Homo sapiens: one gene and its partners. The protein of the gene in region 2 purifies or fractionates together with the protein of the main gene of each other region. This does not show direct contact. Each region holds a gene or a part of one and is shown on either strand. Other genes may lie near its edges. The genes, in order: TPR, PCLAF, ZC3HAV1L, CAST, PARG, RRBP1 and HARS1.

Region 1 (3,957 bases), on a different chromosome or scaffold from region 2:
TCCAACATTGCTTTCTCACTGAAACTGACCATTTCATTGCTTTCTTCAATTTTTTCCCATGACACTCTTGTTATTCATTACAGCAATTACAACTTTGTATTTTATTCTGTGGTATACATGCTTTTTACTCCACTACATTGAGCTCCTCAAGGGCAAAAATCTCAGCTTCTTATTGTTTAATCCCTTTACCTAACTCCACAGTAGGTGTTCAGTAAAACTTTGCTACCTGCATATTTCCTTAGATTCTTATCTTGACAAATGTTAGAATTCAGTAAATTATTCAAGTATTTCTGTGCTGTGAAAGTAGAGAATGTTTTATTTCAGCTACATCCAATAAACTAAATATATTACTAATCAAATTTACTATCTGTTATATCAATTAAAAACTAAATGATGCTTAATGAAAAATTCTAATTTTACTTTGAGCTTAATTTCATTAATTTTATTCAACAGTAATTTAAATGAATAGATGCAAAATCAGTTACAGATATTTATTTAATTCAGGCAACATTTTATTGCATGCTACCATATCAATTACATAGGGAATATAAAAATGCATAATACATTACCTTTACCTACAATGTATTTGTCTACCAAGTGCCAAATCTGTGTGAAAGGTGACATGTACCACAGAATAGGAAGGATAATTTCAGCTTTGATAAAAGTAGAAGGCTTATATTCAGCATTATAATTATTTTTCAGCTATGCAGTCAGAAGGGCCTGTGGAACATGTTCCAGTTTTTGGAAGCACAAGTGGATCCGTTCGTTCTACTAGTCCTAATGTCCAGCCTTCTATCTCTCAACCTATTTTAACTGTTCAGCAACAAACACAGGCTACAGCTTTTGTGCAACCCACTCAACAGAGTCATCCTCAGATTGAGCCTGCCAATCAAGAGTTATCTTCAAACATAGTAGAGGTTGTTCAGAGTTCACCAGTTGAGCGGCCTTCTACTTCCACAGCAGTATTTGGCACAGGTAAAATTAATTTTAAAATGAAGTCAGAGTAGACCTATGCATTTATAAGATCTTGAGTGTATCTTGAGTATATATATCTTGAGTATTCTTTGTACAAATGAAGTTAGAATAGACCTACGCAATTATAATATCTTGGATATAATACGTATCACAAGTATTCTTTGTGCATACATGCTTTCTACCAGGAATTAGAATGAATGAATATATTACTAACATTTTATTTCATGTTTACTACTGAATATGACTATTTTAAATCAGTTGTTTGTCATTAAGATGATTCTCCCCCTCCAGTTATTTTTTTTACTGGTCTTACATATTAATGCAAAACATTGTATATAATTTAACGGAAGTCCTGAGGACTAAAAGACACCTAAGATAAGACTATATACTGATTTACATACAGTGTACATTTTTTCTTATTCAAGGAGTCCTGAGTTTTATAGAAGGTCCCATGTAAACTTTGTAGATAACAACATAGTAATACAATCTCAGTGAACCAGATATATTGTAAAAATTGGCTGGCTTTATTAAGCAAAGCTTGGGTTGGTATAAAAACATTGACTCAGAGCATAAGTTGCTCTTTGTTTACCCATAGCTTAGCAGAAACAAATTATGTTGATGGACATTGATCTAGGAGTTGATTGATTGTATTTTAGTAATCTGTACAATTAAATGTTTACTGTGTTCTCCTTTAGTTAAGTGACCATATTGGGTAAACTATCTTTATCTAAATTGAGTTATTATCATGCTCTAATTCAAGATTTATATAATTTCAAAGTTTCGGCTACCCCCAGTTCTTCTTTGCCAAAGCGTACACGTGAAGAGGAAGAGGATAGCACCATAGAAGCATCAGACCAAGTCTCTGATGATACAGTGGAAATGCCTCTTCCAAAGAAGTTGAAAAGTGTCACACCTGTAGGAACTGAGGTGCGTAAAGTTCTTTCTGTGTATTTTAACTTTTACCAGTAGAGTTAAGGTACTCTTTTCAGCTACAGCCTAAAGAAAATTAACCTTTTGGGGCCAAAATATATTATCTGGAAAACACTTTTATTGAACTTTCTACAAAGATTCCACTGACAACCCAGGTATTATTACCAACAGTGTTTTATATTCTTGCATATCTTTAATTGCATTTGTTTCTATTTCAATAAAAAAGCTCAGTCATAAAAACATAAGTTGAATTTCATCTCGAAGTTTCTAAGTCTCATGGACATAAACTGTTACCTGCTATCTTTTTCTAAGATTAGCCAAAATTATATTCCTTTTTGTGGTTAAGATTAAATTGTAATGAAGCAGGTTTCAAATCAAACATTAAGGCTACTAAATTAATTGTATTAGCATGTATTAATGTTCATAAACCTTACTTTGTGTATACTGAGGAGGAATGTGATTATAATTTTTAAATAAAATTTTTTTATTTTTCTATAGTTTCATAAAATATAGATTTGAAGGGTTTTTTCAAATGAGAGAACTAACAAAAACAGGTAACCCTTCATCTACTACACTGATATGGTTAATATATTAGTGTATTATGATACAGGAAGAAGTTATGGCAGAAGAAAGTACTGATGGAGAGGTAGAGACTCAGGTATACAACCAGGATTCTCAAGATTCCATTGGAGAAGTAAGTAAAAACATACCTAAAGTACCACACCGTTGCTTTTCGTGAATGAAATTAGCTTTGACAAATTGAAACATTATTTGGTCTTTTTTTTTTTAGCTTGTTCTTATTATATGTAATGAAATACTACTAGAATTAATCATTGCAGAGTCTGCTTTCTTTTACTCCTATGAGTATAGTGTACTGCCTTCTAAACTTATATTAAAGAAATGTTTTTGTTCATATATAGCACAGATTTCCAGATTTTTTAGAGTTGTGAGCCAAGATTTTTCCCTATTTTAATTACATGAAATACAAGAGTGCTGGTTGCATCTTGAGTTAATTTATAGTGCCCCATTTGCTGGTTCTCTCTTACTCCCCTGTATTATTTCCCTTACAGAATTAAAGTAATCCATAAAAGGAAATGCATTTATATACCTCTTCATTTTTTGATCTCTCATTGAGGTTCCCCTAGCAGTTTTACTAGCGGAGAGAATATAGACCCTGAAGTTACAAAGCATGAGGTGTCATTCCTAGCTCCACCACTAGGAAGCTTTGTGACTGTAAGCATATCATTAATTCCCTGCATTGTCTCACTTGTCAAAAAATATAATTTTTAGGATTGTAAAATACCTAAAGTAGTACCTGCCACATATTAGGCACTCAGAATATTATTACTTTCCTTTCTTCCTTCTGTCCCACAAAATGAGAATTCATATTGTCATCAAGAAGACCCCCAGGGTGGCTAAATAGTGTTTAATAGAAAGGAGAGCTTTATTAGTGATATCATTTTGCTCATGAGGAAGAAATAGTCTCCAGCGTGGACCAAAGGTGTTCTGTCTTCACACAGGGCAGGGACAGGTGTGGTTTTATGCCTCACAGGGTCCTTATTACACAATAGAGTCATGCATATTCAGCAGGTTTTGGGGAAACGCTATACATATTTATGAGGGGAACTGAGCATATAAACAGTAGGTAAATATATATAATATACATCCCATGTTCACTTTGGGGCAGCGTTTTAGCATGAAAATGAGCTGGAATTTGGCTCTTTACGTGAAGAGTGAACAAAAGGTGAACTACAGGACACAAAGACAGTTTGTGCGCAGCCTCTTTAAGCAGGTTGAAACTAGCTTAAGGTGTCTGCAGTTCCTTGCCAGTGCTCTCTACAGTCAGAGTTGTAGTGGTCTGGATTGTAAATCAGAGATAGGAGTCTGATAACTTGCCCGATAGTTCCAGTTAGAGGAGTTTAGCAAAGGCTTATATTTTTTTATTGTAACCATATGAATTTAGAAATTTACCATGCCAGACAGGCCCTGAACCCTTGACCTACGGGTAACTTTTGTTTCCTTAACCTTAGGGTTTGTCTTAGTTGAGAAAAT
Region 2 (4,681 bases):
ATCCCAAAGCAAGTTCATCTGATCCTGTTTTTTGTTGTTGTTTTTAGAGACGGAGACTCGCCCTGTCGCCCAGGCTGGAGTGCAGTAGCGTGATCTCGGCTCACTGCAACCTCCGCCTCCCGGGTTCAAGGAATTCTCCTGCCTCAGCCTCCAGAGTAGCTGGGACTACAGGCACATGCCGCCACTCCCAGCTAATTTTTTATTTTTTATTTTTATTTTTATTTTAGTAGAGACTGGGTTTCACCATGTTGCCCACGCTGGTCTCGAACTCCTGAGCTCAGGCAATCTGCCTGCCTCGGCCTCCCAAAGTGCTAGGATTACAGGTGTGAGCCACCATGCCTGACCGATTCTGTTTTATGTATGGTATTTAGAGAGTGAAAATCACTCCCCAGGGGTGTTGTGAGTAATTAGAAGGTAAGCATAAAGATAGAAAAAAATTATGACCCTTTATCCTAGAGTTATGCTCACTGTGTGACAGCGATGTGGTCTTACCACATTTGGCAGGGTCTTTTCGTTTCGTTTCGTTTCATTTCATTTCCTTGCCTTGCCTTGCCTTTCTTTTCTTTTTTCTTTTCTTTTCTTTCTTTCTTTTCTTTTCTTTCTTTCTTTCTTTTTTTTTTTTGAGACAGGATCTCGCTCTGTCGCCCAGGCTGGAGTGCATGGTGTGATTATGGCTCACTGCAACCTCTCCCTCCTAGGCACAAGCAATCTCCCGTCTCCTGAACTCAAGCCATCCTCCCACCTCAGCCTCCCGAGTAGTTGGGATTACAGGAACATGCCACTGCACCCGGCTAATTTTTGTATATTTTTTGTAGAGACGGGTTTCACCGTGTTGGTCAGGCTGGTCTCGACCTCCTGGGGTCAAGCGATCTGCCCGCCTCGGCCTCTCAAAGTGCTGGGATTACAGCCATGAGTCCCCGCTCCTGGCAGATTTGGCAGATTATTTAGGAGCTCTGACACCATTCGGTTCTCAAGAAGACGTTTTATTAGTTTCTTTTTATGTGTGTATGTATATACAATCCCCCTAGTTTTTGTTTAGTCTCACATCATCCTAAAGACATTTAAAAAAACCCTTGTAAACAAGTTGTATTAGCTTCCTTTTCCCCATTCCATAGAATTGTTTTAGTATGGATGCTGTACAAAGAGTTCATGCCTGGGGGACTAAAGGAAAGTTCTCAAGTTCTTTTAATTTTGATTTGCATCAAAAAGTCCGCTTAATTTCAGGTTTCACCTCCAGGAGTCAATCATTATGGACTTAAAGCTATAGTAACTTTTGAAGATCGTTTGTAATTCGCTGTCTTTGCTAGGTTTTCTTTTCTAAGCAGGCTCATTTCTGTAGTTCAGAAACTTAGCACCCACTAGTCGGGTACCCCTGGAGAGTCCTGGTACCGCCCACCTGGGGCGCCTACGAATCCTAGGCCTTTGCGTGTTGATGGACGGATTCGCGCTGCAAGAAGCCTCGCCGCTGTCACCACTGGGCATTGGCAATTGGTTCAGGGGGAACGGCGCGGAACCAATGGGAGCGGTGGCTCGGGAGAGACCTTGGAGCGCGCGGGAAAGAGACCAATATAAACTGTGGCGGGATAGTTTTCGGGTCCTTGTCCAGTGAAACACCCTCGGCTGGGAAGTCAGTTCGTTCTCTCCTCTCCTCTCTTCTTGTTTGAACATGGTGCGGACTAAAGCAGACAGTGTTCCAGGCACTTACAGAAAAGGTGAGGCGATCGAGTGTGGTACTGGAGGGCGGGGGGGTCCTCCCGGCAGCCTGGCCACGGGCGACAGACGCCAGAGGTCCCCCTGGGCCCTGTGCGCCAAACTCATCTAGCTAGCCAGGGAGTAGCCGCCTGGCCCCTTTACCTAGAAGAGGAAGTCGCAGGGGCAGGGTAAGGTTATCCTGCTGTTCTGGATCGCCAGGCTCTCCTCTCCAAGCTGCTGGGGTCCAGGACTCGGTGTCGGAACCCTCCTGCCCCTTCTGAACACCCTTTTTTGCCTCTCTTCACAGTGGTGGCTGCTCGAGCCCCCAGAAAGGTGCTTGGTTCTTCCACCTCTGCCACTAATTCGACATCAGTTTCATCGAGGAAAGGTAAGAAGAGCCCTCCTAAAGTTAGGGGATCAGTCCTGGCACCTGCAAGCCCCTGGCTTGCCATGAATTTCTTTTTCTTGAGGTACTCACGCCCGAATTTCTTCCTTGCCCTGTGATATAATAAGAGAGGCTGGGCCTTTTGGCCGGCTAGGGTAGAGGTGGGGGGGAGGTCTCATGGAAGGGAATTTCAAGCCTTGGAGTTAAGGACCGACACACCTTATCTTCAAGCCTATTTTTCTTTTCTTTTCTTTTTTTAGACAGGGCCTCTCTTTGTTGCTCAGGTTGGAGTGCAGTGGTGCAATCACTGGTCACTACATCCTCCACTTATGGGGCTTAAGCAATCCTCCCACCTCAGCCTCCAAAGTAGCTGGGGCTACAGGTACATGCCACCACGCCGGGCTTTTTTTTCTATTTTTTGTAGAGATGGGGGTCTCACTATGTTGCCTAAGCTGGTCTCAAACTCCTGGGCTCAAACAATCCTCCTACTGGGATTACAGGCATGAGCCACCACAGCCAGCCTATCAATTTTTGTTTTTTGGTTTAGTATTTTCCTTTTTCTTTCTCTTTCTTTTTTTGAGACAGAGTCTTGCACTGTTGCCCAGGCTGCAGTGCAACGGTGTGATCTTGGTTCACTGCAACCTCCGCCTCTCGGGTTCACACGATTCTCCTGCCTCTGCCTCCTGAGTAGCTGGGATTACAGGTGCACGCCACCACACCCAGCTAATTTTTTTGTATTTTTAGTAGAGATGGGGTTTCACTATGTTGGCCAGACTGATCTCAAACTCCTGACCTCATGATCTGCCTGCCTCAGCTTCCCAAAGTGATGGGAACACAGACGTGATCCACCACGCCCAGCTATTATTTTTCTTAATAATAACAGAGGCTATTTAAATATTGTTAGAGGCTATTTAAAAGCCCCCTTAGTAGATTAAGGGTTTGAACAATCGTTAACAGTGCTGAGTGCTCATTGCAATGTCTACTAAACTTTAATAAAAATGTTTTTGTTTTTGTTTGCTTGTTTTTCCTTTCTTCCTTACTCTTTTTTGTTTGTTTGTTTGTTTGAGTATGATGTCTGTGGGTTTTCTCCAACTTTGCAGCTCCTAATACTGTCTTTGGGAGAGTAGGAGTGAAACCCGGCAAAGGAAATAGCTTCACGCTGCTCCTTCTGTGCGTGGAGTAGATGAGAAAATGCCCTGCCATCTGGTGCCTCATTCCTTTCAGTAGGAAATTTGGCAGACAGGGAGATTAACGCTACAAGATTTAATTAAGAACATAAAGGTGAACACTGTTTAGGACTTCATGGGTTTTAAAGTCAATTCAAATTTCTCCCTATTATAAACATTTCATTAGAAAACATTTACTATTTCTATCTCTTCAGATAAAAGGAAATAGAAGTTGATGAATTTTTTTAGAGTAACTTATACCCTGTACCACTAGACTAAGTTTCTTTTTCTTTTCTTTTTTCTTTTTTTTTTTTGAGACAGGGTCTCACTCTGTTGCCCAGGCTTGAGTGCAGTGGTGCAATCACAGCTTACTGCAGATTTGACCCCAGGGTTCAAATGATCCTCCCACTTCAGGCTCTTCCCAAGTAGCTGGGACTGTAGGCGCATGCCACCACACGCCCGCCTAATTTTTGTGTTTTTTGTAGAGATGGGGTTTCATCACATTGCCCAGGCTGGTCTCGAACTCCTGGGCTGAAGCAATCCTCCCGCCTCAGCCTACCAAAGTGCTGGGATTACAGACGTGAGCCACCACGCCTGGCCTGATGAAATTTCATTAGAGCCGCATCTCATCGTCTGGTCCACTGTTGAATCACCAGAGCCAACTAAATAGGCCCTTACTGAATATATGTTGAATAAATGCATCCTTTAAGGCATTTTAAAAATCTCTATTTTTAATCCGAATAATTGGATGTATGAAATGGGTAATATCCTTATTTTAAAGATAAGGAAATTTAATATCTGGTTATATAACTTGATAAAGGTCACACAACTAAATCAGTGGAGTTGGGTTTGAACCTGTTGCTGCTATATTTTTTTTTTTTTCTGAGACACAGTCTCGCTCTGTCACCCAGGCTGGAGTGCAGTGGCATGAACTCGGCTCACTGCAACCTCCGCCTCCCGGGTTCAAGCAATTCTTCTGCCTCAGCCTCCTAAGTAGCTGGGATTACAGGCATGCGCCACCATGCCTGGCTAAATTTTGTATCTTTAGTGGAGGCAGGGTTTCACCATGTTGGCCAGGCTGTTCTCAAATGCCTGACCTCATGATCCAACTGCCTCGGCCTCACAAAGTGCTGGGATTACAGGCGTGAGCCACTGCGCCCAGCTGCTGCTGTATGTTTTCTAGTAGTAAAAGCATTCCTGTAAGGTTCCTTTGGGAAAACTGTGAACCAAAAGATCACTATCTTTTATATGCCATTCCTTCTTTTGGAGGCGAAGGCGGGACGGTTGCCTCAGCCAGGAGTTTGAGACCAGCCTGGACAACGTGGCAAAACCCCATTGCTATTTTTATAAATGTAAATAAATAAGTAGAAACAATATAACTTCAGAGTCTATATGGAAACAACTTTTGTAAGCATTCTTTAACAACTAGAGTTGTTAA
Region 3 (4,446 bases), on a different chromosome or scaffold from region 2:
CAGACTGGGGAGCTACTTTAGATTTGAGAGGTCAGGAAAGGTTTTGCTGAAGAGAAGACATTAAAGCTCAGAGCTGAATGACACACCTTGAGTGGCACTCAGGAGACATCCACACTTCCCAGATGAAAATCCTTTAGTGACTTCCCAAAGTTCTCGGGATATAAGTCCAAATTTCACAGCATGGCAGAGAAGGTCTTCTGGCATCTGGCCAGTTGTCTTCCTCTCTAGCTTCTTTACATTACATGACATTAATGCATTTAATCCTCACGAGCACCTTGCAAAATAGCAGCTAGGCTGGCTGAGTTCTCTGATGGTCTGATTCATCTTTGTACTGTCACTGCGTTAGTAGTTGGCTCAACAAACGTTCATGAAACAAGCAAGGTGTTGGACAAAAAGCATGGATGCTTAAGGCAGGTCTAGACTGGTGCTGCTCAACAAAAATAAGGTAATCCACATTTGCAATGTAAAATTTCCTCATAGCTACATTAGGAAAGTAGAAGCAACACATGAAGTTGTCATAACATTTTATTTATCCAAATATATCCAAAATATTATGTTTAACATGTGATTCATATAAAGTTAGTGAGATATTTTACATTCTTTTTCTCATTCTCAGTCCTCAAAATCTAGTGTGTGTATTTCACACTTATATCACATCTCAATTCGGACTAGCCACTTTCCAATAAAGCTCAGCAGGCCCCGCGGGGTGGCTCACGCCTGTAATTCCAGTGCTCTGGGAGGCTGAGGCAGGTGGATCGCTTGAGGAGTTCGAGACCAGCCTGGGCAACATGAGGAGACCCCGTTTCTACAAAGCAAAACAAAAACCAAAAAAATTAGTGATGCGAACCTTCGGTCTCAGCTACTCAGGAGGCTGAGGTGGGAGGATCGCTTGAGCCCAGGAGTTCCAGGCTGCAGCGAACTACGATAGCGCCACTGCACTCCAGCCTGGGCGATAACGTGAGGCCTTGTCTCCAAAAATAAAAATACAACAACAACAAAAAATCCCAGAAGTGCTCAGCAGCCACATGTGGCTAGTGGCCACCTCCCGCGAAGCAGCCCGGCCACTCACCTCCTACCACCTTTTACCTATTTCTCCTTCTCCGCAGGCCTCCCTAGCACTACCAGTTGTCTTGTTGGCGAGTCCTTTGTGACTCCCACTATACAAGCCCCTCAAGGCCAGGCTTCGCCCTGAACGGTGCCTGGGCGGAGCAGACGCTCCATCAACGCTGTCCCCGCCTGAGTCCACGTCCAGGGGATCCGCAGGCGCCGTACCCTGCTTCCACGCGCCGGGGCCGCCCCTCGCCCGGCCTCCCGCAGGCCCACCCCTCGCCAGGCCCAGGCCCATCCCCGGGCTGTTCGCTGGAAATCGTGGACGTGACTGGGAGGAGCCTGCCCGCCCCGGCTCGCTGCGCCGCGCGCACAGGGCCCGCGCCAGCGACCATGGCGGAGCCCACAGTGTGCTCCTTCCTCACCAAGGTGCTGTGCGCCCACGGCGGCCGCATGTTCCTGAAGGACCTGCGCGGCCACGTGGAGCTGTCGGAGGCCAGGCTCCGGGACGTGCTGCAGCGCGCCGGGCCCGAGCGTTTCCTGCTGCAGGAGGTGGAGACGCAGGAGGGCCTCGGGGACGCGGAGGCCGAGGCGGCGGCCGGCGCGGTGGGCGGTGGCGGCACCTCCGCCTGGAGGGTGGTGGCCGTGTCCTCTGTGCGCCTCTGCGCCCGCTACCAGCGCGGCGAGTGCCAGGCCTGCGACCAGCTGCACTTCTGCCGCCGGCACATGCTGGGCAAGTGCCCCAACCGGGACTGCTGGTGAGAAGGCGGCGGCGGGCGGGGACTGTGGGCGCTGGCCGCGGGCCTGGCCGTCCTGCTGGAAGCGGGAGCGACGGGAAGGGGGGCTTCGTCCTGCCCCGGGCCGGGGACGCGGGGCTGGACGACCCCCTCCCGCAGGCCTTTCCTGGGCGTCCTCCCCCGCGCTTCCAGCAGCTGGGCGGAAAGGCGCGAAGGTCCTCTCCATGGAGACGTCTCAACCGCCCACGCCAGAAAAGTTGCTGCCCCCGCCCGCCCCCCCGGATCCTGCGCGACGCGGCCGGGTTAAATCCGGACTGGGACTTCGGAGCTCACTTATTCTGGTGATATTTGGCGGGAGGTGGGGGGCGTGGGGCGTCTGAGGATCCCATGAGATCCCTGGACCCTTTAGCCGGAAATCGCTGCTCCCCCATATCCACACACTTGTGCAGAAGCGGGTCTGCGCCCTCTAGGTTTAACAGCGCTGAGCCAGTCTCACCCCAGGAAACAGGGCTGGATGGCTTGGGTGAGGCCCTGTGGTTCCTGACTGCCAGAGCTGGGGTTCGGGGCTGCCTCCTGACCCCAGGCTGTGCTTCACAGCCCCGAATTTTCCTTGGTTGTCTCTAGCCACACACCCCGCCAAAGCGGTGCTGGGGATAGGGGCGCTTTCTTTTTAACGTTGGTGGACTGTGGCAGCTGTTGCCGGGGAGAAGGCCAGGTGCAGTCGCCTACGGAACAGATGTGCATCCTCAGGCGAGGTGGGCGACCCTTGGCTTCAAAGCATCCCTACTGAAAATTCAAATGACCCTGGGAGAGGAGTTCCTTCAACCCAATTTTCTTATTTTCCATCAGTGCTTATTAGGCCATACTATCCCCGGTTTCATGAAAATTACTCAACTTCACATGTATTAAATACATTGAAAGCTGCTCAAGGCAAGGAATTGGACAGACTGGTCCTTCTTCACCTGGGCATCTGACCGAGGGCTTTGTTCTTTTAGGTCTACCTGTACCCTTTCCCATGATATCCACACACCTGTCAACATGCAGGTCCTGAAAAGCCATGGACTTTTTGGTCTCAATGAAAACCAGCTTCGGATCCTGCTTTTGCAGAATGACCCCTGTCTTTTACCAGAGGTGAGTCACCAAGGAGTCACCCTCATGTCACATTTGCTACAAGTACTTTCCCCATTTATTTTTCTTTTGGCTTTACATATTAATTTTAATTGCCTTCGAAGCAACATGATTCAGTTTCAAATGCTTTAAAGGTACCCTTTATAATTGCTATCATGGCGAAATAGTACGTTTGTTTCAGTTTAGCCATACACAAAGAAGTTTTAAAAACAAAATAGTACAAATCCCAAGAGAAAATTGGAACATCAATTAAGACCACCAATTAAAAGCAAGATTTTCTAATCTAGCACAGTGATGCTATCATAGACACCTCCACTTGGCCAGAAGAGGGATGGGAAGAAGGGGAGATGTTGAGAAAACAGAGGATAGTTCATAATTGTGGCCTGATTTTAACTCTAATGCATTTCAGCGTCTAGAAAGGAAGATAGCCACAAGACTAGAGGTAGGAGCTGGAGCCTTTGGTGCAGGTGGCAGAGGCTGCTCTCAAGGCAGCAGAATCTGTACCCAGAAGGCAGTCCTGGAGTTGATCTCAGGAACAAGCAGGTTTCTTCCTGACATGCATAACCTGTTTCATTTCTTCGAGCACTGAAGCCAAGTCTGGTATGTCACGGTTGTGAGCCAGAGGCATTCCAACCAACCATGTTGCCCAAAGTAGATGCAAGCAGTAGCTGAAGCAGGTTATTGGCAGGAAGGGAGAGGAGGGTGGCTGCACCTATGAGGCTGGGTCCAGTCCTTCCTGTCTCAGAGAGAAGGCGTGGTGCCGCTGCTATTTGCCTTTTAATTTTATAGTACTTTTTGATTTATAGAAGTTTAGTGTTTTTATTTTGTCAAATCTATCGAATGTTTTTTTGGTATGCCCTTTTTTAGGATGTATCTTGGGCCCAGCCTCACCTTGTCATATTAGACTACTTCAGTGTTTTGTGAGCAGCTGATGGGTTGGCTGCACTTACAACAGGAGCCTCCCCTGTGCCTCCACTTGTCCCCATCACCTGGGACTGGAAGTAGGTGACATGTGGCACAAAACGTGATCATGTGGGCAGCAGGGACTGTGGAAAAACACAGTGCATGAGGCAAGAATGGTGCCTCACATCTCTTGTATGAAATGCCTGATGATTGCTTTTACCACTCTCTCAATAAAAAAGACAATAGACAGGTAAAGTTTCATGCTGGTGCATTGATGGACAAATTTCTAGAAAAATACAGCTTGTCAAAATGGATTCAAGAAGAAACGGAAAGCCAAAATAGTGTCATAAAAATTTTTAAAATAAAAGCATTAAACAAACCTCAAAGCATTAGTTAGAAGGCTTGCACAAGAAAACATCAGACTTATATAGTTTTTTTTTTTTTGAGACAGGGTCTTACTCTCTCACACAGGCTGGAAGTACCTCGGCTCACTGTAGCCTCTGCCTCCTGAGTTCAAGTGATTCTCCCACCTCAGTCTCCTGAATAGTTGGGACTACAGGCACGTGCCACCATGCCCAGCTAATTTTTGTACTTTTTGGTAGAGATAGCGTTTCACCATGTTGGCCGGGCT
Region 4 (4,681 bases), on a different chromosome or scaffold from region 2:
TATAAAAAAGAATGTAAAATATCTCAATGGCTTATACACTGATTACATGATGAAATAATAATATGTGGGATATAGTAGGTTAAGTAAAATATATCAATTAGCACAAATTTCACCTGCTTTTTGTTGTGATGTTGTTGTTAAAGTGGCTCCTTGGAAATCTGAAATTGCAGACGTGGCTCACATTATGTTTCTATTGAATAGCACTGGTTTGGGCAAAGCTAAAGCTTGATCACAGGCATGTAGCTGGTTCTAGGAAGTTCCTACTAGCAAAAAGTTTTCATGGTAGTACCAAAATGGGATTCTAAGAGAGGTTTTAGCAAAAACATCAGACTGTGACTAAACAAAACAGGGTTAAAAGCATAGATTCAAACTACTTTCATCCAAGTAACCCAGCAGAGTTTCCTTGAGAGAATCATGAGTCTGGAAGGAGAATTTTGATGTCAACTCTGAACTACTGCTATCCATATTTGCAGATAAGGTACATGGTACATTTTGATAAGAACCTTAGGCCAATAATGACTCAAAGCAAATTGATGTGGTTTGTTCTTACCACATCAATCAAATGCTACATGTAAAAGCCCAGGAAATGTACTGGAAAACATTCATGAAGAAGTATCTCAAGGGAAATTGGAATTCCAAATTCTTAAAAGTATATGTGTATGACATTTTGACTTTTAAATCTAATTAGTCCTCACCAATACTTATGTAGTGCATATAATTTCTATTTTACACATGTGAAAACAGGTTGAAAAGGTTGACTTATTTCCATTTGAGAAAAACTCTTTGTTCTCCACAGTGTACATGGAGGCTTTAAAAAGCACCTGTAGGCCCAGTGCAGTGGCTCATGCCTGTAATCCAACATTTTGGGAGGCTGAGGTGGGAGGATTGCTTGAGACCAGGAGTTTTAGACTAGCCTGGGCAACATAGTGAGAGAGACCCTGTACAGTATATTGTATGTGTGTGTGTGTGTGCATATATATATATATTTACACATATATATGCACACACATATATATGCACACACACATATATTTACATATATATGCACACACATATATTTACATATATGTGTAAATATATATATGCACACACACTGTAAATATACACACATACACACTATACATATATACTATTTATATAGAAACGGAGAATAAAAAATAATCTAAAAAAAAACACTACTTGTGGGATATAATTCTGCCTGGCACATAATAGATGATCAATAAATGTCCATTGTCTGATAAGTAACAGTTTCTTTCTTGATTCTTATACAGGGTAGCTAGCTCCAAAGAATGTCTGATTCCAACATCTTTGCTTTTTCCAATACCACATGCCAAGAGAGAAAAAGACATACCTAATTTTTTAATTCTCACCATAAATCAATGAGACATAAACATTTTGGCTCTCACTGTCAACAAAACTCCTGTGTGTGATTTTTTTTTTTTTTTTTGGAAAGCAATCTAATGTTAAATCATGCTTCCTGGTTCCAAAACACTAGAAGTGCCAGCTTGACTGGATATTACACCTAATTGGCAGGACAAACATTCAATGCACCAAACAAATGGAATGTTCTTGTCCCTCATCCAAAGTAATAAAGTGCAGAGAAGCTCGCTTTTGTGCGCGCTGTCTCTCTCTCCCTCCCTCTCTCACTTTCTCGCTTTCTTTCCTCCACCCCTCCACCGCTCTCTCCAAGGGTCTTGGTCTCAGATCTCAGTTGCTTCTGCCCCTTGATGTTTGGGATTTTCTCCTTGCCTCACATTGCAGCTGCCTCTCCTTTGCGTCGGCGAATGTACGTCCAACAATCGCCCTCTAAAAGTTTTGAACTTTACTTAGGGGTTAAAAAAGAACTCTAGATCAAAGCTCTTGCGAGCTGCGTCCTAGTGCATTCAGGAATCCACCTCCTAGACAGAATTCCTCCAGCAACAATTCCAGTTCCATCCCACTTGTGAGCGCCAGCAGAGCATAGTGCTTGACATCGGGGCGAGAGAGGTGCATGCGCCGCGCACGCTCGGGCGCGCTCATACATACCACAAGAGGGTGAGTCCCCTGCCTCTCCCCGAGCCTAACCTGAAGGTCTGCGAGGAGGTCGCACCCGGTCCGCACCCCTTCCCCGCCAAACCCCGGACAACGCTTCATCCGCACGCCCAGAAGGGCAAAGCAAACACACTCCCTTCCAACACACTCCCTTCCGGGTCCTGCCCAGGCACAACCGCTCCTATTTACCGTCTTGTACCACCAGCTGGCGAATGCCATGGCAACAACCGGCTGGCTCCGATCCGCACGGCGGGGGAGCCGGCGAGGGCGCGGGGTGTTGCGTTGGAGGCGCCGGGCTCACACTCCGCTTGGCCGGGACCGGGCTGGCACTGAGCTCCGCACATCCCAAGGCGGCTGCCAGGTGGGCAGAACCCTGGGGGTGGGGCCCGGCGCAGGCCCCGCCCCTCCTCGCCCGCCCAATTTGGCTCGAGGCTGGTTAGGGAAGAGGCTCTGCGTCTCCAGGCAGCCACGCCCTGCGGCCCGGCCTTAGCGCGGAAGACTACATCCCGCTGTCCAGTGAAACCACCCCACTCACTCGGGGGTCCTGAGTGAACCTCATTCCCCGTTCATCCTCATCCTCATTCACCCACGTCTTACCAGCCAACTTTTCTTGACGCGTCCCCCCCTCCACTCTACCCGGCCAACGCCACGCCCAGCGCACTGGACCCGGCCGGGGAACCGAAGCCACCTGCAGCCACCTGCCTGGCAGCGGCCAAGCCCCTAGCCCTCTCCCTGCCCCGCGGGGGCGCCGGGGACTGCAGACCCGCCAGCCTGGCAACGCCCAGGGAGGGCGGCCACAGCTCCGGGACCCGGTACCCCATCGCCCAGCCCCGCGACGCCGACAGGAGCGCCACTCACCTCATGGGTGCGGCGGGCGGCGGCTGCTCGCCGGGGCCGCGGGGAGGCGGCGGGCTTCTGGCCGGGCTGGGACATGGCGAGGCCGCTGCGGCCGCTGCCTCCCGGAATGCGCCGCGGAGAGTGGCGGGGAGGCCTGGCGGGGAGTCCTGCCAGGGAGAGAGGGAGGGAGGGAGGGAGCGGAGGGCCCGGGAGCGGGCGATGAAACAGCTTTTCCGACCCCACCCCAGGTCTGCGCCGGGGTTCCCCTAGCCCCGATGGGCCCTCCCCTTCCTGCCCGCGGAGGGACCCGGGCTCCTGCCCTGTAACTTAACACCCTCCGCCCCGGTCCTCACCCGGTGACCCGCCCCGGCCCCAGCACTGCTCTGGTCCCGGTTGGTCAGAAAGAAGGGGTTGGAGGTTGCAGCGTTCCTCCTTCGATGCCCAGATCTAGCTTGCAGTTGTGCAACGAGAGAGCGGGACCCGGGCGTGGCCAGTCTACGCTTCGACCCTCCTCCCAACAATCCGGAGAAGTAGATACTCTTTCTACATTCTGCTCCGCTTTAGCTGCGAGAGTTTACCAACTCAAATCTGGCCCAAGCCTGGACAGTCTAGATAAGGAAGCGGATCACAAAAACAAATTGGTCTGTGTGTGTGTGCGTGCGTGCACGCGCCTGTGTATGTTTTATATGATTTTACTTTGTTTTTTGGCAGTTTCGAATTTTAATAAACTTTTATGGGGAGGAGAACATAGGTTCCAATGCAAAACGGAGAACAGTCCCAAATTTAAACCCTTATAGTCTTTCTAGAGTCTGGCGAGTTTTGTTTCTGAAGCTAGATTGCTTTCTTCTTGGGCTCATCTTAAACAGCGCTTCCTGGTTTGGGGCTGGAAGTGAAATTTAACAAGCCCTACGTGCTTATGTGAGAAACTGTCAGCCTGCAGTTGCTGCTGGTTCACAATCAGGCCTGACAGAAAACCTGTTTGTTACCCTGCAGTAGCATCATCATTCTGGGACTTGGGGTCACCGCTTTCTGCAGCGTTGGGGTTTAGACAGTTGAAGAGAGAGAAGGCAGAGCCTTTTTTTTTTTTTTTTTTTTTTTTCTGGAGAGGCAGTTTCGCTCTGTCTGGAGTGCAGTGGCGCGATCTCTGCTCGCTGCAATCTCCGCCTCCCAGGTTCAAGCGATTCTCCTGCCTCAGTCTCCTAAGTACTTGGGACTACAGGCGCGTTGTCACACCCAGCTTTTTTTTTTTTTTTTTTTTTTTAATGGTAGAGACGGGGTTTCACCACGTTGGTCAGACTGGTCTCGAACAACACCTGACCTCAAGTGATCTGCCCAGTGCTGCCTCCCAAAGTGCTAGGATTACAGGCGTGAGCCACTACAGCCGGCCAGAAGGCAGATTTTAAGGAGAGATTTGTCATGCTATATGGAGCCTGGCAGAACAGAATTCTGGTTTCCTTTGTACCTCCTCATTTTAGGAATTCTGACTTCTTCTTCAAAGGATAGGCTAGCAGCATTCTTAATTTTGAGGGAGGGGATGCGGGGAGAAGAGGATTTAAATGCATTTCCTCTTAAAGTGTCGTACTTACTGTCTGTGTATCTAGTATTTCAACAAACAGGTAGCACTGCAGGAATTTATACATAAAAATGAAACAACTTAGATATTGGGACTATGTCCACTCAGGAAAAACAAATGATTGTTGGCATCGGTTACATTCAGAAAGGAGGGAAACTATGCCATAAGTCTGAAAACAAGATCTTCTTATGATTGTGACCACACCACTACAGTAATTTAAACAAACACAAAAGCTGTAGG
Region 5 (3,957 bases), on a different chromosome or scaffold from region 2:
GGGATTCTCTACAGCAGCAGTCCCCAACTTTTTGGCACCGGGGACCAGTTTTATGGAAGACCATTTTTCCATGGGTTGGGGGATGGTTTCAGAATGAAACTGTTCCACCTCAGATCATCAGGCATTTGTTAGATTCTCATAAGGAGTGTGCAACTTAGATCCCTCCCATGCACAGTTCATAATAGGGTTCTTCGTCTTATGAGAATCTGATGTTGCCACTGACCTGACAGAAGGCAGAGCTCAGCCTTGCTCACCTCCTGCTATGCAGCCTGGTTCCTAACAGGCCATAGACCCCTAGTCCATGCCTGTCTGGATTCCGGGGGGTTGGGGACCCTTGCTCTACACAATGTAGATTTTACCCACAAGACACAGTTTAGCAGGGCCATTTCAAAATATTTCAAATAAATACATTTTGGGGTAAAATACTTCCGTTTCTTTCAGAGCTTGGTATCTGTCATGTTGGTATCTTAATTGCTATAAAGAGTCTGCCTTGTCAGTCTTAAAGTACCTGTTTTAATGTTAATGCTGGTCAGTCACATCTAAATTTCAAAGGGAGGAAGGTATAATGAAGCATGTCCAACCACCCGTTCCCATCATGGCCTGAACTAGTGTATGGGGTTTGCTTTAGAATGCCCTTGGCTGAGGGAGGGGCCCATTCAGTTGGTTGCGGGGCTTAGAATTTTATTTTTGTTTCACCCTTTTCCTTGTTAATTTTTTAGCCTTTAGAGTTAAGCTCAGTTGCCACTTCCTCAAGGAAGCCTTACCTAAGTTTACCAGATAAACTAAATCTGAGCTGGTCTCATAACACAGTGTTCCTCGTATTCATAACATATTACAAGTGAAATTATATATTTATGTGATTATGCTCTGCAGTGAAGTACTCATACATACTACCACATGGATTAATCTTGAAAACATTATGCTAAGTGAAAAAGGCCAGACACAAAAGGCCACATATTATATGATTTCTTTTATATGAAATATCCAGAATAGGCATAATGTTAAACTTTAAACCATAATCTCTTTCTCTTACCAGTGGCAAATCTATATGGGTCTGCAGCAATGTTAATACTCCTCCTTAGAAGAAAGGATTTGATTGAGAGGCATAAGGCAGAATGAGAGACCAAGGCAAGTTTTAGAGCAGGAGTGAAAGTTCATTAAAAAGCTTTAGAGCAGGAATGAAAGGAAGTAAAGTACACTTGGAAGAGGGCCAAGCGGGCGACTTGAGAGATCAAGTACACAGTTTGACCTTTGACTTGAGGTTTTATATGTTGGCATGCTTCCAGGGGGTTGTGTCCCCTTCTCCCCTGATTCTTCCCTTGAGATGGGCTGTCTGCATGCGCGGTGTGATTACTGGAGTTGTACATATGCTTGCTTGAGGTATTCTTCCCTTACCAGTTGAGTGTTCTTATAAGGTCATATACCAGTTAAACTTTGCCATTTTGCTCCCTAGTACACATGCTGGAGCTGACTTGCCCAACTCCTAAGATCTTAACAGGAAGCTGCTGATCACCAATTTCAGATTTTTCTATCTATTGGGTGACTCCTTTCCCTGGCGCCGGCTGCTTCCAATTATTTTACAGAGGCAGTTTCACAACTCCCTGTGCATCACTTGAGGGTTGTCTGACATTCCTGGTAGTGGTAGGGGCCCTGTCCTGCCCTGCTCATGTCTGACTGGCTACCTACTGTACCACTTCCTCAAACATTTACTTAATAGTTATTATAGTAGCATATGTGTGTATATATATATTTGCATGTGTACACGTACACATGTACACATACCAGGTTCTATCTTACATATTCAGAATACAAAGTTAATATGGTTATTTTCAGGAAGTTTGGGATCTAGTGAGGGAGAGGAAGACAAGTGTGCTCTAGCATGATAATAATCTAACAAAACAAGATAAATAGCTGACTACTTTGAAGTTTCTAAAGACTTCATAAAGATAATGAAAATCTGGCAGAGCTATGAAGGTGACAATAGAGATTTAACCAGATACAGTGGGGGAGGTGGCAATTGGTAGTAGTGGTATTAAAAAGAGAGGCCACAGTAGTATGTATACAGGCATATAAATATGAAAATGAATTTGCTATGTTTAAGGAATTTTAAGTGTTGTTTAAGATTTGTTTGGAATGAATGGTGTTTTGATAAGAACGTATATGAAAATCAGGATGACACTTAGAATCAGAGTATAGGCGTTATAGCATTAGAAGCCTGGGAGTTCTTTAGAAAGGGTTTTATGGGGGCTAGATGTGTCTAGCAACAGCTGGAGTTAGGGAGAAGGATAGGAAACACTTAGTAAAAGCTGAGGCAAGGAAGGATTCCTAGGGGATATGGAGCTAGAATATATACTATATCTGGTGACTTGGACCTGGTTGAATGGAGGTGAGGAATGGGAAGAACTGAAGGGTTCTTTGGTGATTTCTTGCCTGGGAGCTGGTCTCTATTTTATAGCATTTGCTTTGGTTACTTAGGATTATTTTATAGAAGATACATTTTGTTTTTATGCACTGACAATTTTGTTTACCCTCAATTTCAGGTAGATCTTTTGCGAGCAGGAGAAGTTCCTAAACCTTTTCCAACACATTATAAAGATTTGTGGGATAACAAGCATGTTAAAATGCCTTGTTCAGAACAAAATTTGTACCCAGTGGAAGATGAGGTAAGAACAAAACCGAGATTCTTTTAGTCTCTGAAAAATGGTTTGGTACTTGCTTGTTTGACCTTTGATTCTGTGATGCAAAACAACTTAGAATAGCTTCCTCATATGTTTTTCTTTTTTCCAAAAGAATGGTGAGCGAACTGCGGGGAGCCGGTGGGAGCTCATTCAGACTGCACTTCTCAACAAATTTACACGACCCCAAAACTTGAAGGTATGTTGTTTTTACCATGCTTGCCTGTTTATGGGCCCTGTGTCTCCTCTTTCAAAGACTTTTTGGTCTTAATAGACTCAGGTAGCAACATTGTTTAGATGCAAAATGCTTGCTTCCTGGCACTAAGGAAGGCCCCTTAGAGACATTCTACTAGGAAATGAGAAGAACTGAGAGTTGCAAATGCCTTGCCTGGAGCCACACAGAATAATTTGGAGAACCAGGAATAATACCTCTGTTTCTTGATTCCCCATCCAATTTCCTTCAGTGCAAGCTTCTCTTTCTTTTTTTTGTTTTAAAATTATCATGTTTCTGAAATATCTTTAAAAGTAAATCAGGAAAGAATTATGACTTCAGCAATATTTGCCCAAAGGGAAGCTGAGTTTCCCAATGATTAAAGTATATGTTAAGCATTCTGGTTTTTATTGCCCTTAATATAGCTCCTAGCAGTTTAATAATTTATTAATCTTATATTTTGGCAATAATTTATTTTTGATATATTTATATTTCATTTATGACTGCAAGGGTAACTAGTAGATTGTTTTTCTAATATCTAAAATATGAGTGAGAGTGTGTGTGTATATATATATATTTATATTTGGGGGCACTATAGCCATGAAAACTTTTCATGTTTTTATAAATATAAACAGTGACAGAATTTTTTATACTTCTATGAAAATGAGTTTTATTTTCTTTCAGAGACTTAATTTGTTGTATATAGTTTCTCAGCTTTCTTAATGTTTTCTACTGATACTTGCAAGTTATTGTTAAACTTTCTATACCTTTCTGTAGCTCCTGTTTTTTTTCTTTACATGGAAAACATTGATATGTTATATCATAATGTATTTTGAAGGCTTTATTCCTTGGGGACAGTGTTTCTCAATCTTCTAATGGGCTCTTTTTTTAAAAAAAGAAAAGAAAAGCAGACTGTTTATTTTTCTTTTTTACAGTACAAATTGATTTATTTAAAACAGTTACAAAAAAACAAAACAAAATAGAGATTATCATTAGAATTATTAATGGTTTGTTAAAAATCAGGTAGGATTACGGGGTAAGAAATGGTATTAGGTGGGAGGAGCACCTGAC
Region 6 (3,957 bases), on a different chromosome or scaffold from region 2:
AAAGCATAGGAGTATGGCTAATAATTTGTGGTTCAACTATGTAATATAGGAGTGAAAATAAATAAACCCCAGCCTGGCCAATATGGTGAAACCCCGTCTCTACTAAAAACTACAAAAATTAGCTGGGCGTGGTGACACACGCCTGTAATCCCAGCTACTCGGGAGCCTGAGGCACAAGAATGGCTTGAACCTGAGAGGCAGAGGTTGCAGTGAGCCAGGATCATGCCACTGAGCTCCAGCCTGGGCAACAGAGAGAGACTTTGTCTCAAAAAAACAAAAAGAATAAACCAAAGCTATGTGTATCTATATGAATATTCTCACAAAGTTTAGTCAAAAAATGTTACCAAATAGCACCCAGAACAATGTCACTTACACAGCAATTACCAACACACAAAGTAACGGCTGTATTTTGTTGGTAGAGATAGATACATGTAATAGAAGCAAAAGCAGGTGGAAGTGGTAAGTGGCCCATTCAGGGTGTTGTCCCCCTCTAGAAGGGAGATGACATATATATACATATACACATGTGTGTGTGTCCCCCCCCCACATATATATGTATACACAGGCACATACATATATATATAAATAAATATCTAAAGTGCATATGGCAAAATGTTAGGGTTTGGTAAACCTGGGTGGTAGGCTAATGGATGTTCATATTTTTCTTTTTAGTCTTTTGTATGAGTCATTTCATAATATTTTAAAAATTAGGAGCTGTTGATTCTGATGTAGCCATGTCTGCTAGGGTCTCTGTTTTATTGTCATTCTGTTTTAGTTCTGTACCTTCCTAGCAGGTCACCTTATGCCCAGGAAATGGATCTGGGGGTTGGTTTTCTTTGTCCACCCCTACCCCACAGCTTCTCCAAGCTTCCACACACGGTCCCCCGTGGAGCTGCTGCTTAGTAATGAGACAGAGTCCTGGGAGCTGTTGAGGGTCTTTTCACAAAACCTACCAAAATCCCAGCTGCCAAATTGGACCCAACTGGCTTGGCCGGGCCATGTGAATTAGCAGATATCTTCTGTGTCTAAAGAGTTTGGGGCTTCCTCTTACTTTTGTTCCCCGAATCTTAAGAACAGAAGAAGAGCCATTCTCTCAAGATCTTAGAGGTGGGCCAGTGAGTTCAGTCTGTCCAGCCTCTGCGCAGCCTCCTACATCCTTCCCTCTTGGGGCCTTCATCTTTTTGTCTTACAGTCTGAGTATGTTAGCAATATCGTAGTCCCCCTTTATCTATGGTTTCACTCTTTGTGGTTTCAGTTACCAGCAGAAAGCTGTGGTCTGACAATATTAAATGGAAAATTTCAGAAAGAAACTCTTCCTGAGTTTTAAGTTGCATGCCATTCTGAGTAGCGTCTTGCCTGGGATGTGAACGATCCCGTGTGCAGTGGATTCACGCCGTCTGTGTTACCTGCCTGTGCGTCACTTGGTGGCCCTCTCAGCTTTCAGATCCACTGTCTGGTATCACAGTGCGTGTGTTTGAGTCACCCTTACTTTACTTAATCATGGCCCCAAAGTGCAAGAGTGGTGATGCTAGCATATGGTTATAATTGTTCTATTTTATTATTGTTAATCTCGTACTGTGGCTAATTTCTAAATTAAATTTCATCATAGGTATGTAGGTATAGGAAAAAAATAGTGTATATAGGATTCAGTATTACTGCAGTTTCAGACCCACTGGGGGTGTTGGGAAGTTTCCCAGAGGATAAGGGAGGACCACTGCAGGGAGTAAAAGTACGTATTTGACAGAAGTTTCTGGAATTGACAGAATATAGATCCCTGTGGTCAGACCCTACAAGGTATGGGTGGGCACACATCTGCCCTAACTCTGGTGCAGTGGAGGAAGCCCTAGAAGAGGTTTCTGTTGGGGGCCTCTTATCATGGTGTGGATTTCAGGAGCAAATCTCCCGGAATGCTGATTGTGAGAACCGAATTTGAGAGGCATCCCTGGCTTCATCATTTCTGTGAATCAGGGATCTCCCAGCATGATGTTTACGCCTCACTGAAGCTGACTCTGCAAAGCAGCAGAAAGGTTGTTTTTCATTTCGATTTCTTTGCTGTCCGTGGTGGTATTGCCTTAGCCTTAAATGTTTCAGTGTATTACTACTTAAGACTAGGGCTTTTCATTTTCTTGTGAAAGATTTCTTTTAAAAAATTCTAACTTGGGAATTAGTGGTGGGGATGTAATTTCTTTTTCTGCAAAAGTTGGGAAGACACATTTGTGCTGCTATAAAACATATATTTGTGTGCGTTGCAAAGGAAAAATATTCTCCCGAGTTTGTTTTTCTCGATTCTGGGTCCCAACAGAGAATATGTTTTTGTATTCTGTGTTTGCCTATGTTGAGTAAGATTAAAAGTTCATTTTCCAGCCTTGGCTTTTCTGCTGGAGTTTAGAAGTTGGAAACCACAAGGCTGCACAGAGCCCCACAGTCCTCGGCTGTGAACAGGCCCCGCTTTGTGCGTGGCTGTTCACTGTGTCACGGTCTGCAACCAGTGCCAATCGCGACTCGGTAAAGACCACCCCTCGAGCACATGGTTGTTGGGAAACGATTCGGGGTTTATGGAGCCTCAGTGAGGGTGACCCAGGCCCCTAATGTTCGTTTCTCTAGAGAAGGGGAGTGTTTTAGAGGATTTTTTATTTTTTTTTAAATAGAGATGGGGTCTCACTATGTTGCCTGGGTTGGCCTTGAACTCCAGAGCTCAAGCGATCCTCCCTCCTCAGCTTCCCAAGGTGCTAAGATCACAGGCTTGTACCACCATGCCTGGCCTTAGGATTTTTGAATGTAGTGATTATAATGTGGTGTCCATTTTGGCAGAGTTCTGAGAAATCTTGTAAGTACCCAGAGGAGTTTTGGTTGGTGGGTACCTGCCAAAAAGTGAGGGTTGACTGTACCATGTTCCAGACCTTCTTGTCCCCATCCTCCTACCCACTGAATCCATCCATGGCTGAGCAGGGTGCGATTTCCTTTTTAACACCCAGCTTGAGAGTGTGTTCTCGGAAGGCCAGTTCCTGGTATCCTCCCTCGATGATCAAACGTGAGAGTGCCCTGGCTGTGGATCACACTGTCACTGCCCACGGCCAGAGGTCAGAACCCATTTGGAAATATAAATGCTGCCTTACCCAGGATTCAAAGGCCTCCATGAGCTCCCCTAAGACTTTGTAGAGGTTAAGACTGGAATGAAAAGTGTGACTCAGTCTCGCTCAACGCCGAGTGACAGTGTGGGAGAAGTGTGTTGCCACAGCAGCTGATAGAGTTGTCCCCAGGGAGAGCATATGCTAGGAAGTTTCTTCGTCATGAGTGTTTTAAACCCTCTTCTTGTGAAGGTCTTAGAAAGGTCAAAGTAATGTGTTCCTTCTGTGATGAGAGTGATTTTTTTTTTTTTGAAAATTTTTTTTTTGAGACGGAGTCTCGCTCTGTCGCCCAGGCTAGAGTGCAGTGGCGCGATCTTGGCTCACTGCAAGCTCCACCTCCCAGGTTCATCCCATTCTCCTGCCTCAGCCTCCCGAGTAGCCTGGACTACAGGCACCCGCCGCCACGCCTGGCTAAGTTTTTTGTATTTTTAGTAGAGTCAGGGTTTCACCGTGTTAGCCAGGATGGTCTCGATCTCCTGACCTCGTGATCTGCCTGCCTTGGCCTCCCAAAGTGCTGGGATTACAGGCGTGAGCCACCGCGCCCGGCCGAGAGTGATTTTTCTTAGAACACAATGCCAAGACATTGAAAACAGTCTCCCTTCTCAGTCCCTTCTTTAAAATGCCCTCATGTCAAAATTTGGATTTGATTCCTACTCTGTTTCCTTCCTCTATAACCACTCAAGAGGAGTGGGGATCTCAATGTCTTAGGAGAAGAATCTCAGTATCTGAGCCACTAAGCAGCCTGGACCCAGTCTCCCACAGCATCTAGAGGTTTTGCAGGGCAATGCTGGGGGAGGCCTGTCCACTTCCCCTCCTCTCCTCTTCCACC
Region 7 (3,957 bases), on a different chromosome or scaffold from region 2:
GAGCAGATGGTACGGAACTTGCTGTCAGAAACACCACAGATAGCAAACATCCCATCTAGAATGCGTCGATCGTTTACCTGCAAGGAACCAATGCATAGTGAGGGGGGAATCTCTTTTCTTACATGACCTGCAATAGTCATGGTCACTTAGGCTACTGGTCCCTCTGCACAAGGATCTTCTCTTGTGAGAGGCCAGGCCCAACTTTGCCCTCCCAGCCTTGTCAGCTCTGACCTTGACCAGGAAGTCGCCTATCTGAAGTGAACTCAGGATCTCGCACATGATCTTCAGGCACTCTGCATCAGGGATCATGGGATCAAAGTTCCCAGCAATGTCAAAATCCTGCAGGGAGAGGGTTAGCCAGCGGTCTTCAGGGATTCACCTTTCTGAAGGGGGGACTCTGGGAGCTCTGTCCTCTAGGAAGGCCTGGTTGCACTCAAGCATAGAATTTCTCTTTCATTTTCTGATCATCAGCCCAGAGGTAAACCCCGGCATCTTTGGGCTTCTCACCAGTTTTGGTTTCCTTTCCATCTACTGGGCTATTCCTTCATTTTCTACTTCATCATCTTCTTAACTCCTCCTACTGGATGGGGTGATTATATGGCTTTAGTGCTTAGCCATTTTCCCTATTCATCCAGAAGCCCTGGCATCAGTCTGGATGATTTGATGTATCAAAGCTAATTTCCTTATTCTCTGCTGTGATCCTATCACTGTGGTTTAAAATAAAGAGCACTGGACCAAGAGTTCTAGTCCTGACTTTGCCTTTCTTATCCCTATGATCTCTTCATGGGCTGGGTATCAAGTTTACTCATATGTAAAATGAAGAGACTTTATTCTCCTCCCCCACCACAGGGATTTTGTGAAATCTGCATGAAAACACCATAGAAGAGGCTGGGTGCGGTGGCTCACGCCTGTAATCCCAGCACTTTGGGAGGCCGAGGCAGGCGGATCATGAGACCAGGAGTTCGAGACCAGCCTGGCCAACATGGTAAAACCCCGTCTCTACTAAAAATACAAAAAATTAGCCGGGCATAGTGGCAGGCGCCTGTAATCCCAGCTACTCAGGTGGCTGAGGCAGAAGAATCGTTTGAACCCAGGAGGCAGAGGTTGCAGTGAGCCAAGACTGCACCACTGCACTCCAGCTTGGGCAACAGAGCGAGACTCCGTCTCAAAAAAACAAAAAACAAACAAAAAAACCACCATAGAAACCCTAAGAGCATTATCTGGGTCATCCAATTTGCTCAGGACACCGTGAGTACTCAATAGATTCTGCTGGCTTGAGAGAGCCCCAAGTAACTCATCCTGCCCCACGGTTTCCCAACACTCACACACTGGTAGAATTCCCGGTATCGGCCACGGGTCATGGCTGGGTTATCCCGCCGATATACCTTTGCTATGTGGTAGCGTTTAATGTTGGTCAGTTTATTCATTGCCAAATACCGAGCAAAAGGAACCTGATGACAAAGAGTTAAGGAGAAAGCCCCTCCTATCACTGTCTGCAAGTTGATTATCATCACCAACAGAAGCTGGGGTCTAACCCCTCCCTATGTGGGTAAAACTGCCACCCATAAGATTAATAGCACTTACAAACATCAGAAAGCATCAGCTGTGCTACCACATGAGGTAGCTGAAGGCTCAAAAAAGATTAAGGCACCTTTCCCTTTTGTAGTGTTGACTGGACTTTTTTGAGCATGGCAAGGGGCTGGGCAGGTTGGCCACAGACCAGAAAAAGGCGACCAGAAAAAGGCCCCCATATGGGATTTCTAAGCAGATGATTCTCTGTGTAGCTTGGAGACAAGGGAAATGTGTTGCTAGTCCATTAAGAAGAATTTTGTTCACTGGACAGGGCAGGGGAGAGGTATTCTGGAGCCAGGGGATGACTGTAGAGTTGGAACTGGGCCCTGACATCAAGCTGAGGTCTCACTCAGGATTCAGAAGATTTCTAAGGATGTGTATGCTCTGTTTAGCCAAAGTTCCACTCCTGGTTTAGAGAAATAATTCCCCTAATCGCCAAAGGCCTCATATTTGATCCTACCTACTCTACCATTCTTAAACCTGAGCCAAGTGAGTGCCAATCCATCCAAAGTCTCAAGAGCCCAAGTTTAGAAAGATACAGTGAGGTCATAGCGAAGGGACAGGAGCTCCCCGCCCTGGTCCTTCAGGTCATAGATAAGCTTGGAGTCTTCCCCATACTTTCCCATCAGTGTTTCCTGGAGAAAACATAAATAAATGTGGTCATAATAATAAACATAACAATTTAAAAGGAAGTTTTGAAAACAAACATGACTGATTCCAACTTGTCTACATTTCCCTCTGCTCTTTATCCCAATTCTTAGGTGTCTGATGTAGTTATCATTAAAAGGAAACACCAATTTTGTGTTTTTTTCTATTTTGATTTTGTAACAGAGCTGAAGTATTTTTCTTACACATTTTCCTCTTAAAAATCTTTTTTTTCTTCAGACTTCTCAGCATGAAGTTTGTTTTTTTTTTTTGAAATGGAGTCTCGCTCTGTCACCAGGCTGGAGTGCAGTGGCGTGATCTCGGCTCACTGCAACCTCTGACTCCGGGGTTCAAGAGATTCTCCTGCCTCAGCCTCCAGAGTGGCTGCGACTACAGGCGGGTGCCACCATGCCCGGCTAAGTTTTGTATTTTTAGTAGAGACAGGGTTTCACCATGTTGGCCAGGATAGTCTCGATCTCTTGACCTCGTGATCTGCCCGCTTCAGCCTCCCAAAGTACTGGGATTACAAGTGCGAGCCACAGCGCCCGGCCTGAAGTGTTTTTAAAAGATGCATAAATTCCAGTGAGAAGAAGCTCTGTACTTACTTCCTCCCTCATGTTATACTGTTAGGTGTTTAGGTTATTCTAATTTAAAAAAAAATTTTTTTAGGCCAGGCATAGCGGCTCACGCCTGTAATCCCAGCACTTTGGGAGGCCAAGGCGGATGGATCACCTGAGGTCAGGAGTTCGTGACCAGCCTGGCCAACATGGTGAAACCCTGTCTCTACTAAAAATACAAAATTAGCTGGGGGAGCTGGTAGGCATCTAATCCCAGCTATTCGGAGGCTTAGGCAGGAGAATCGCTTGAACCCGGGAGGCAGAGGGTGCAGTGAGCAGAGATCGCACCATTGCACTCCAGCCTGGGTGACGAGAGTGAAACTCTGTCTCAAAAAAAAAAAAATTCCCCATAACATTTCAATATCTAATATTTAGGTATATAGCTCTTTTTTTTTTTAAAAAAAAGTATTTTTCTTGATGATAAACTACTAGGAATAGGTTATCAGACCAATAAACATAAATGTTTTTTGATGCCTGAGATTCGAATAATGTCAAAAGTAAAAACTGGGGAATGTCTTAAGGGCATTACAGCAGTCCTTGCCCTGTGATGTCTATCATCGGTAATAGCATATTTCACTTACCAGGTTGGCAAAGATTAAAAAGCCTGAAACTTCCCAGTATGCAGTATCAGAAACAGTAACACACTAGTGTTACGGGCTGAACTGTGTCCCCCTGGCCCCACCCTCCCCAATTCATTTGTTTAAGTCCTAACTCCCAGTAACCTCTGAACATGTCTACATTTGGTGATAGGGTCTTTAAAGAGATGATTAAGCTAACATGAGGTCTCCAAGTTGGGCTCTGATCCAATATGTTGTTGTAAGAAGAGAAAATTTAGATAGGGACAGAGGGAAGACGATGTAAAGACAAAGGGAGGCTGGGCGCGGTGGCTCATGCCTGTAATTCCAGCACTTTGGGAGGCTGGGGTGGGCGAATCACTGGAGGCCAGGAATTCAAGACCACCAACCTGGTCAACATGGTGAAACCTCGTCTCTACTAAAAATAGAAAAATTAGCCAGGTGTGGTGGCACACGTGTTGTAATCCCAGCTACTTAGGAGACTGAGGCAGGAGAATCGCTTGAACCTGGGAGGTGGAGTTGCAGTGAGATGAGATGGTGCCACTGCA

What was found.
Region 1: the proteins of PCLAF (region 2) and TPR purify together in Homo sapiens (affinity purification with mass spectrometry, with the first as the bait; one large-scale study listed by BioGRID). This does not show direct contact.
Region 3: the proteins of PCLAF (region 2) and ZC3HAV1L purify together in Homo sapiens (affinity purification with mass spectrometry, with the first as the bait; one large-scale study listed by BioGRID). This does not show direct contact.
Region 4: the proteins of PCLAF (region 2) and CAST purify together in Homo sapiens (affinity purification with western blotting, with the first as the bait; one study listed by BioGRID). This does not show direct contact.
Region 5: the proteins of PCLAF (region 2) and PARG purify together in Homo sapiens (affinity purification with mass spectrometry, with the first as the bait; one large-scale study listed by BioGRID). This does not show direct contact.
Region 6: the proteins of PCLAF (region 2) and RRBP1 purify together in Homo sapiens (affinity purification with mass spectrometry, with the first as the bait; one large-scale study listed by BioGRID). This does not show direct contact.
Region 7: the proteins of PCLAF (region 2) and HARS1 fractionate together in Homo sapiens (co-fractionation; one large-scale study listed by BioGRID). This does not show direct contact.

What each region holds. Positions count from the first base shown.
Region 1 is NC_000001.11:186,330,140-186,334,096, reverse strand, and holds part of TPR (nucleoprotein TPR), read left to right. Parts: intron 1-702; coding exon 703-975; intron 976-1,753; coding exon 1,754-1,902; intron 1,903-2,515; coding exon 2,516-2,599; intron 2,600-3,957.
Region 2 is NC_000015.10:64,378,357-64,383,037, reverse strand, and holds the start of PCLAF (PCNA-associated factor), read left to right. Parts: upstream 1-1,596; 5' UTR 1,597-1,666; coding exon 1,667-1,712; intron 1,713-1,999; coding exon 2,000-2,080; intron 2,081-4,681. UniProt on the Homo sapiens protein: PCNA-binding protein that acts as a regulator of DNA repair during DNA replication.
Region 3 is NC_000007.14:139,033,012-139,037,457, reverse strand, and holds the start of ZC3HAV1L (zinc finger CCCH-type antiviral protein 1-like), read left to right. Parts: upstream 1-1,415; 5' UTR 1,416-1,440; coding exon 1,441-1,805; intron 1,806-2,779; coding exon 2,780-2,915; intron 2,916-4,446.
Region 4 is NC_000005.10:96,660,706-96,665,386, reverse strand, and holds the start of CAST (calpastatin), read right to left. Parts: upstream 3,012-4,681; 5' UTR 2,965-3,011; coding exon 2,890-2,964; intron 2,363-2,889; exon of another isoform or gene 2,251-2,362; coding exon of another isoform or gene 2,221-2,250; intron 1-2,220.
Region 5 is NC_000010.11:49,921,253-49,925,209, reverse strand, and holds part of PARG (poly(ADP-ribose) glycohydrolase), read left to right. Parts: intron 1-2,540; coding exon 2,541-2,663; intron 2,664-2,790; coding exon 2,791-2,874; intron 2,875-3,957. UniProt on the Homo sapiens protein: Poly(ADP-ribose) glycohydrolase that degrades poly(ADP-ribose) by hydrolyzing the ribose-ribose bonds present in poly(ADP-ribose). PARG acts both as an endo- and exoglycosidase, releasing poly(ADP-ribose) of different length as well as ADP-ribose monomers.
Region 6 is NC_000020.11:17,661,700-17,665,656, reverse strand, and holds part of RRBP1 (ribosome-binding protein 1), read left to right. Parts: intron 1-3,957. UniProt on the Homo sapiens protein: Acts as a ribosome receptor and mediates interaction between the ribosome and the endoplasmic reticulum membrane.
Region 7 is NC_000005.10:140,677,677-140,681,633, forward strand, and holds part of HARS1 (histidine--tRNA ligase, cytoplasmic), read right to left. Parts: intron 2,208-3,957; coding exon 2,112-2,207; intron 1,452-2,111; coding exon 1,326-1,451; intron 340-1,325; coding exon 232-339; intron 78-231; coding exon 1-77. UniProt on the Homo sapiens protein: Catalyzes the ATP-dependent ligation of histidine to the 3'-end of its cognate tRNA, via the formation of an aminoacyl-adenylate intermediate (His-AMP). Plays a role in axon guidance.